Regions from separate parts of the Homo sapiens genome. Here region 2 is linked to region 1. The links come from fine-mapping of genetic effects on gene expression. A gene starts in region 1. The other region holds a variant in brackets. All regions are shown on one strand. Distances are from middle to middle.

Evidence for each region. PIP is the estimated chance that this variant, and not a neighbour inherited with it, causes the effect. A credible set is the group of variants that fine-mapping cannot tell apart.
Region 2: its variant is the best candidate, but not a certain one, in a credible set for the expression of DTX2 in whole blood (INTERVAL, PIP 0.74).

Annotation. Positions count from the first base shown.
Region 1 is chr7:76,459,777-76,464,155 of GRCh38, reverse strand. DTX2 (deltex E3 ubiquitin ligase 2) reads right to left here and starts at 2,447. Exons shown (of 11, transcript NM_001102594.3): 1 at 2,320-2,447; 2 at 447-611.
Region 2 is chr7:76,480,599-76,484,977 of GRCh38, reverse strand. DTX2 (deltex E3 ubiquitin ligase 2) reads right to left here. Exons shown (of 11, transcript NM_001102594.3): 3 at 4,201-4,379; 4 at 1,831-2,470. Among named protein-coding and RNA genes, the nearest start is that of DTX2, 21 kb to the right of the region's middle. The variant G/C (reference allele first, on the strand shown) is at 2,301.

The DNA of each region.
Region 1 (4,379 bases):
CGTCCCCTTTCTGGATGTGGGTAGGAGAGCCTTGTGATTTCTCCCAGCTCAGTATATATCACACTGACAACACCTTGTCACTGACTCTGCTTTGTCTTTTCCACCAAACAATGCACTCCCAAAAGACAGAGATCTTATCTGGCACCCAGTAAGGGTTTATGCAACAAAAGAAATGAAAACTGCCACTTCAAATGCAGAAATCGTGACTTGTGTCTTCTATCCCATAAAGCATGTCTTAAAGTGGAAAGCATCTTCTAAGACTAGTTAGTTAAACAGGAGAAGCAGTGGCAAGACGCCACTGCAATTTATTTGAGACAGGTGGCAATCAACAGTCAACTCCCAGGGCACACGTTTATCCTGCAGACCTCAAATTCCACCCTCCCCAATCCCCACCTTCTCTGCACCAGATAGAGAAGGCAGCAAGGTCAAGTCCCCATGGCTCTCACCTTTTCTCTCTGGAGAGCTGGCACAAACTGTCCCTTCTGGATGAAGACACCAGCTCCTTAGGAGGAATGACTTGTTTGAGTTCCCATCTTGATACAAACCACAAACAACAAAAACCGGGCAAATCTGAAAGGCTTGCTGACTCAGCGACACAAATTCCAAGGCACCTTTGCCAACGAGGAAGAAGATGATCAGGTTTTAAATTAAGAAACAGCAGTTAGTAAAAACAAAGGTACAGATGTTGGATCCGTGTGCTGTGCCTGGGGACTGAAAATCACCAGATTTATTTTCCAATAGCCTGGGTGGAGCAGGAGGTACAACAGTCTTCCTCCACCCACTTAACAATCAAGGAGATGGTTGAAGAAACAACAAAAAGCAAACAAACAAAAAAACCCTGAGCTCTTTTTAAAATTTTTTATTATTATTAGTTTTTGGAGACGGAGTCTTGCTCTGTCACCCAAGCTGGAGTGCAGTGGCGTGATCTCGGCTCACTGCAGCCTCCGCCTCCCAGGTTCAAGCTACTCTCCTGCCTCAGCTTCCCGAGTAGCTGGGATTATAGGCTCGAGTCACCACGCCTGGCTCTGAGCCCTTTTCTTAAAAAAAAAAAAAAGTTCGTTTTTTTAGTTTGTTTGTTTTTTGTTTTTTGAGACGGGGTCTCCCTCTGTCGCCCATGCTGCAGTGCAGTGGTGTGATCACAGCTCACTGCAGCCTCCAACTCCTGGGCTCAAGCGATCCTCCTGCCTCAGCCTCCCAAGTAGCTGGGACTACAGGCACCCACCAACACGCCCATCTGATTTTTTATAGAGACAGTGATCTCAGGAATCCTCTTCGTTTCCCAGGCTTGTCTCAAATTCCTGGACTCAAATGATCCTTCCACCTCGGCCTCCCAAAGGGCTGGGATTACAGGCATGAGCCACCGTGCCTGGCCTGAGCCCTTTTACAGAAAACTCTAAAAGGACTTCATAAGCCAGTCTGGCAGCTAAGCATCCAGGAAATCAACACACCAGAGAGGGTAAATATTTAAGGTCACAGAGCAACCGAATCAGAGGGCTTGCTATCCGGATGGCTTAAGCCCGGATGGTGGCTACCAGAAAGTCTACCTTCTAGAGCGCTAGAGGAGCTAGGAAGGCATGCAGAAATATTCTGAGTTTCTCAAGGGTCCAGGCGTCTGTACACATGCTATTTATTTCCATCGCTGTTGGCGCTTAGAGAAGTGGAGCCAGCTTGGAGGAGGAGGGCAGCTGGCTGAGACAGTCGCGATGAAAGCGCAGCTCCAGAAAAGGGAACCGAGTTCTAAATCTTTTTCGGCACCCCTTACGCACCCCAAAAAGTGACCCAGGGCCCCAGGAACTCCTGGGAAGACCCCCCACAGGAAAGCAGGGAAGCAGAGTTAGGAAGCAAACTCCTCCAAAGTACAACCCCCGGCCCAGTGAGTCCCTTCACCTGGGGGTAGACCCCAGCAGGACCAACCCCTCGTCAGGGAGCCGGTGGCAATCTCGTCACCCCCTCCTCTGGGTACTTTGGGAAGGGGTGCGCGCCTTCCGAGCGACCCGGAACCGCGCCCCTCCGCCTGCGAGCCCCTCAGCCTTCATCCGAACGTCCCCTTTCGCACCCGGCACCCTGTCCCGTCCAAAGCTGCCGGCGCCTCCCAAGTCCCCCAACTCTCGCCCTCAGGACCTTGATCCCGGAGACCGATCCCCCCGACACCCCCGATCTCCCGGGACCCCCGGGTGTCCCCGCCGCCCCGGCCGTCGGTCCCCCTCACACCCACGCCCGCCCCCTTCCGGTCCCAGCTAGGCTCCGGCTCCCCGCGCCACCCCGCGCCCCTGGGACCGCAGCCCTAGCGACGCGCAGGTGGCCTTCCCGCCCTCTCACCGAGGCTGAGGAGGACAAGAGGACGGGGCTGAGGGCACCACCGCGCTCGGGCTGCAGCTCCGGCTCGGCCTGGGCAGGGCTCTGGCTGTGGCTCCGACTCTCAGGAGAAGGCAGCCAGAGTGAAACTCGGCGTCGCAGCTTCCGAGCGAGCCGCTGCGCATGCCCGGGGCGTGCGGCCTTCTGGGAAATGTAGTCCCGGTAGGGCCCAGGGGCGGGCAGAAGGCGGGGCTCAGCGGGGAAGGGCTCAACCCAAGGCGCACCTGCTCCGGTCTATGTTTTCTTCCTTCGCCTGCTCACTCATTGACTTATTCCTTCATTAATTACTGACTTAATTTTAACTAGTTTTTACTAGTACATACATGGTGCCAGTACATACATGTGCTACTGTTTCTCTTTTTTTGTTTTTAAAATTAATTTTATTTTTCTTTTTTGTACAGATGGGGGTTTTGCAATGCTGCAACGTTGCTCAGGCCGATCTCAAACTCCTGGCCTCAAGCGATCCTCTTGCTTCATTCAGCCTCCCAAAGCACTGGGGTTGCAAGTGTGAGCCATCGAGCACAACCTTTTTAAATTTAAATTTTTGTCTTTTTCTTTTCTTTTTTTCTCTCTTTCTTTCCTATTTATTTTTAATATTTATTTATTTATTTAGCTACTGTGTAGTGGGAGTGCGGGAGTGAATAGGTGAATCAGAAATGGTTTCTTGGCTGGGCGCAGTGGCTCATGCCTGTAATCCCTGCACTTTGAGAGGCAGAGGTGGGCGGATCACCTGAGGTCGGGAGTTCCAGACCAGCCTGGCCATCATGGCGAAACCCCGTCTCTACTAAAAATACCAAAAAAAACTAGCCGGGCGTGGTGGCTCGTGCCTGTAATCCCAGCTACTCGGGAGGCTGAGGCAAGAGAATCGCTTGAACCCGGGAGGCAGAGGCTGTAGTGAGCCAAGATCGCGCCATTGCACTCCAGCCTGGGCGACGGAACAGGAATCCCTCTCAAAAGAAAAAAAAAAAAAGACGAAGAAGAAGAAAAAAGAAAAAGAAAAGGTTTCTCGCCGGGAGCGGTGGCTCACGCCTGTAATCCCAGCACTTTGGGAGGCCGAGGCAGCCAGATCACAAGGTCAAGAGATTGAGACCATCCTGGCCAACATGGTGAAACCCCGTCTCTACTAAAAATACAAAAATTAACTGGGTGTGGAGGCCGGGCGCAGTGGCTCACGCCTGTAATCCCAGCACTCTGGGAGGCCGAGGCGGGCGGATCACGAGGGCAGGAGATCGAGACCACGGTGAAACCCCGTCTCTACTAAAAATACAAAAAAAAAAAAAAATTAAGCGGGCGTAGTGGTGGGCTCCTGTAGTCCCAGCTACTCGGGAGGCTGAGGCAGGAGAATGGCGTGAACCCGGGAGGCGGAGCTTGCAGTGAGCCGAGATTGTGCCACTGCACTCCAGCCTGGGTGACAGAGCGAGACTCCGTCTCAAAAAAAAAAAAAAATAATAATAATAATAATAATTAACTGGGTGTGGTGGCGCGTGCCTGTAATCCCAGCTACTTGGAAGACTGAGGCAAGAGAATCACTTGAACCCTGGAGGTGGAGGTTGCACTGAGCCAAGATTGTGCCACTGCACTCCAGCCTGGACGACACAGTGGGAATCTGTCTCAAAAAAAAAAAAAAAAAAAAGAAAGAAAAGAAAAGAAAAGAAAGAAAGAAGAAAAGAAAAGGATTTCTTTCCTGGGAAAGCTTTGTATCTAGTTGGAAAGTCCGGCACTTAAACACACAATTACGATATAGTGGGGAAAATGTTTGGATAAAGGAGGGCATAGAAGGGTATGCCTAACTTGAGGGTGGGGAGAAGACATCACAAGACAGATAAAGGCTATGTGGGTTTTTCAGTCCATAGAGAAATTTGCCAGTTGGAGCATAGGGAAGCTCTTGTAAAGCAAGAGAGATGTGAAAGTGCCTCATGCACTCCGGAGGCAGCACAAAGTTCCTGGTGGCCAGGGCAGAGGACACATGGAGGGAAGGGAGTGAGGAAGGAGAAAATGCACTAGGCTATAGCAGGATCTGAGGA
Region 2 (4,379 bases), 21 kb before region 1:
TGAATCCCAGCTCCGCTACTTGCTGGCTGTGTCGCCAACCTCATGGGCCTGAATGTGCTCTCCTGTAAGCGAAGAACACTGCTCAGCCTGAGAGCATCGTGGGATGAGTGAAGTCACTCAAGCAGCCTGCTCAGGAGGGCCTGGCACATGACACGAACCAATGAGCGGGAGGCGCTGTCACTGTGTCTTACACAAGCTGGCAGGGTCCTCGGAAACCCAGTCTGAACAAATACTAGAGGTCCAAGAAGCTGCCAAGGCGGTCTCAACCACCCTGTGAAGTTTCAGCCCTTGACGTGGCTGCGGTGGGCAGGGGTGGGCCGGTGAGCAGGGAGGCAGCAGGATGCCGACCAGGGCCAGTGCGGAGAAAGGAGATGATTTCCTCCCTGGGACCAGGGTGGCCCCAGGCCCACCCACTCCCTCACCACCCGCACCAGGGCACTCTCAGAAAGCCCTGTCCCAGCTACCACTCTGAATTCTCAAAATGTGCTCCAAGCCCAACATTCTCAATAATGAATGACGAAGCCCCAAGTCACCCAGACAGTCAGAGGGCTACGGCCAGCCCATTCACCTTGGCCAAATCCAGGGAAATCCTGGGGGGGTTCCTCATTTTATCTTTTTTATTTTTTTCCCCCGAGATGGAGTTTCGCTCTTTGTTGCCCAGGCTGGAACGCAGTGGCACGATCTTGGCTCACTGCAACCTCCACCTCCTGGGTTCAAGGGATTCTTTTGCCTCAGCCTTCCAAGTAGCTGGGATTACAGGCGCTGGCCACCATGCCTGGCTAATTTTTGTATTTTTAGTAGAGATGGGGTTTCACCATGTTGGCCAGGCTGGTCTTGAACTCCTGACCTCAGGTGATCCGCCCACCTCGGCCTCCCAAAGTGCTGGAACTACAGGCGTGAGCCACTGGGCCCAGCTTTAAGACAGGGTCTCGCTCTGTCACCTAGGGGGCTGAAGTGCAGTGGTGCGATCACAGCTCACTGCTGCCTTGACCTCCTGGTCTCCAGCAATCCTCCTGCCTCAGTCTCCCAAGTAGCTGGGATTACAGGTGTGTACCACCATGCCTGGCTAATTAAAAAAATTTTTTTTGTGGAGATGGGGTCTCGCTATGTTGCTCAGGCTGGTCTCTGACTGCTGGGTTCAAATGATCTTCCTGCCTTGGCCTCCCAAAGTGCTGGGATTAAAGGTGTCAGCCTCTGTGCCTGACCAATCTCCTCATTTTAAATGCCACCCGCTCTGGTCTGCACTGGGCCCGTGGTATCATTCTCTCTCTCTCAAGGAGCTGAGCGCTCTACCAGGCACTCTGGGCTGGGCTGCATCATCACGGGGGCCAGGTCACCCATGCCACCTGCAGCCACTGCCACGTGCTCCACATTCTGCCCTCCCTCACACCGCGCTGACAGCCCCTTGCACTAGACTAGGGCTCAGGGGTAAGGGCTGATACTCTGGTCTCTGGGTCCTTAGGGCCTGGCACAAGGCGGGAGTCAGTGTACAGGCAGTGACCCAGTGTTCTCGGGCACAATGCTCGCCATGCAGCCCGCAAGCAGAGGCCACAGGCCTTTAACTCTGCTCCATGTGGAGGCCCTTAATCATCATGAGTGAAAGGACTGTAGATTCTAACCCGTGTGGTGACCGCCAGGACTCAGGTACAAGGGGTCAGGTAGGCTCTGGATGGCCACGGCACCTCGGCACCCACATGCCACATGCAAATGAGATGCCACGGCAGGACCACCTAGGGGGCAGGAGCCGCATCTGCAGGAATTGGGGTGAGTCTTCCCGGCTAAGAGCGGAAACACAGGGCAGACAAAACGAGCGGCCGTTGCCCACGATACCTGACTGCACCGGAGGTGGAGGATCCTGGGGGCAGGTGCTGCGGTCCCAGGTGGGAGAGGCTGGAGCGGTAGAGGGGCTGGCTCCCCAGGGAAGGAGGAGCTGCGCCCCAGGCGTTGGTGGTGTTCAGCCTGGGCGCAGACCGGGCCCCGGAGAGTGAGGGTTTGTTGTACGGTGCAAAGGCCTGGTGGGTCCCAAACACAGAAGCGGTCCTGTGTGGGGGGTGCTGGGGGACGGGGTATGCAGGGAGGTTGGTCATGGAGTGGCGGTAGCGGCCTGACACGGGGCCAGTTCTGCTGCCACTGAGGCACTGGTGGCAAGAGCAGGCGACGCCTGTGTGGCCCGGCGGAGCGATGATGGTGGTCACCGGGTAAGGCGGCCCTGCTTGGCGCCGCACGCTGCGGCAGAAGCTGGAAGTCTTGTTGGTCTGCGTGTGGGTGGTGTAGTTGACAGTGTAGTTGTACCCCAGGGG[G/C]GCCAAGTCCACGAGCTGGTTGCCCCTGGCCACCTGCTGCTCCAGATAGTCACAGACGCTGGCTTCATAGGCAGTCCAGGAGCCATCGTCGCTCAGCCACTCCCAGACGACACCTCGGCCAGGGGCTGAGTGCTGGGGGAACAGGTGTCTCCGCACAGCCCGCATGGTGCCTATTTTCAAAGGAAAACAAAAGGTTAGTCTGCTAGCATCCCCAAGATACAGGGAACGTTCAAATTCTTTTTTCAACCGCCAAAATAAACAAATAGGAACACAGTAGGTACACAGTCATGCTGCTATTTGTTTATTTATTTATTGTTAGAGGCAGGGTACCCCTTTGTCGCCCAGGCTGCAGTGCAGTGATGTGATCATAGTTCACTGCCACCCTGACCTCCTGGGCTCAAGCGATCCTCCTGCCTTAGCCTCCTAAATAACTGGGACTACAGGCACATGACACCACACCCAGCTAACTTCAAATCGACCTCTACAACACCTGCCACTTTCATTCCCCGATTAACACTTCCTGCTCTCTGCCACGATATGCAATTTCCATGTTATTATTTATCCTGTCTGCTATCTTTCTCAGTTGACTTCACACACTGTGAAGGCAACGACTTGGGAGCTGACTGACAGCCACAGTTTTCACAGACTCTACGACACTCCTGGAAACACATAGTTTCCAGGGCTGGGCATGACGGCTCGAGCCTGTAATCCCAACACTTTCGGAGGCCAAGGCAGGAGGATCACTTGAGCTCAGGAGTTGAAGACCAGCCTGGGCAACACAGGGCAATGGAGACCCAGTCTTTACAAAAAACAAACAAACAAACAAACACGAAAAAAAAAAACCCATACTTTTAAAAATAAAACTAAAATTAAAATTGAAAAAAAAAAGGAAAAACCAGTTTTTCAAGTTTCCTCACTGGTGACACTGTGGGCCAATAATTCCTTACTGCAGGGCCAGCCCAGTGCACTGCCGGATGGCGAGCAGCATCCCTGGCCTCCACCCACCAGATGCCAGGAGCACCCCCACCTCCCACCCACTCAGCTGTAACAACCAACAATGTCTCCAAACATTGTCAGATGGCCCCGGGGACAAAATCACCCCCAGTGACAACCACCAGATTAGAGTAAGGGATGGCTCCGAGAGGAAACTGGTGCCTCATTCTCAATAATACTGATCAAAACACACTGCAGGTCCAGGCGCGGTGGCTCATGCTTGTAATCCCAGCACTTTGGGAGGCCGAGGCAGGCAGATCACCTGAGGTCAGGAGCTCGACACCAGCCTGGCCAACGTGGCAAAACCCCGTCTCTACTAAAAATACAAAAATTAGCCAGGTGTGGTGGTGGATGCCTATAATCCCAGCTACTCGGGAGGCTGAGGCAGGAGAATCGCTTGAACCCAGGAGGCAGGGGTTGCAGTGAGCCGAGACTGCGCCACTGCACTCCAGTTTAGGCAACAGAGCCAGACTCCGTCTCAAAAAAAAAAAAAAAGATCAAAACACATCGCAGACCAAAAAGCAGAAACGCACACATGCAGAGGGGCGCAGTTGCCTGCCCAGGGCACACAGCCACTGAGTGGTGGGACAGGGCCCTCTGAACTCCTATGACGCACCACCTCCATGCCGGCCTGCCGGCCAAAGGAACCCTTCAACCTCTGTGGTCGGGACAGGCATTTCTGCTTTGCAAGACAAGGGGAAGGGCCTCCCACAGTGCCTCTCCCACTGTGAGCTGCACTCAACCTATGTGGATGTTCCCACTCACTGCACCCACCCACCACCACGTGTGCTGCAGGGAGAGAGCAGAAGCTCTGTAAGTCACGTCCATCACCCCAACACCTGGCGCAGAGCCTGTGGGAAAGCAGGTGCGGCACCCAGATATGTGCGAGAGGCAGACAGCGTCTTACCGGTGTCCTGGCGGAACTGGGTCCAGCTGGGGAGGTCAATAATGTAAGGGGCCAGCGAGGGGTCTGCCTGGCCCAAGGGGATGCTGTGGGCCAGGCTCCCAAGCCCAAAACGTTGGCCCTTCTGCTGGACAAACTGCTGCTCGATGAAGCTGCAGACGGTGGCACTGTAGGGGTGCCAG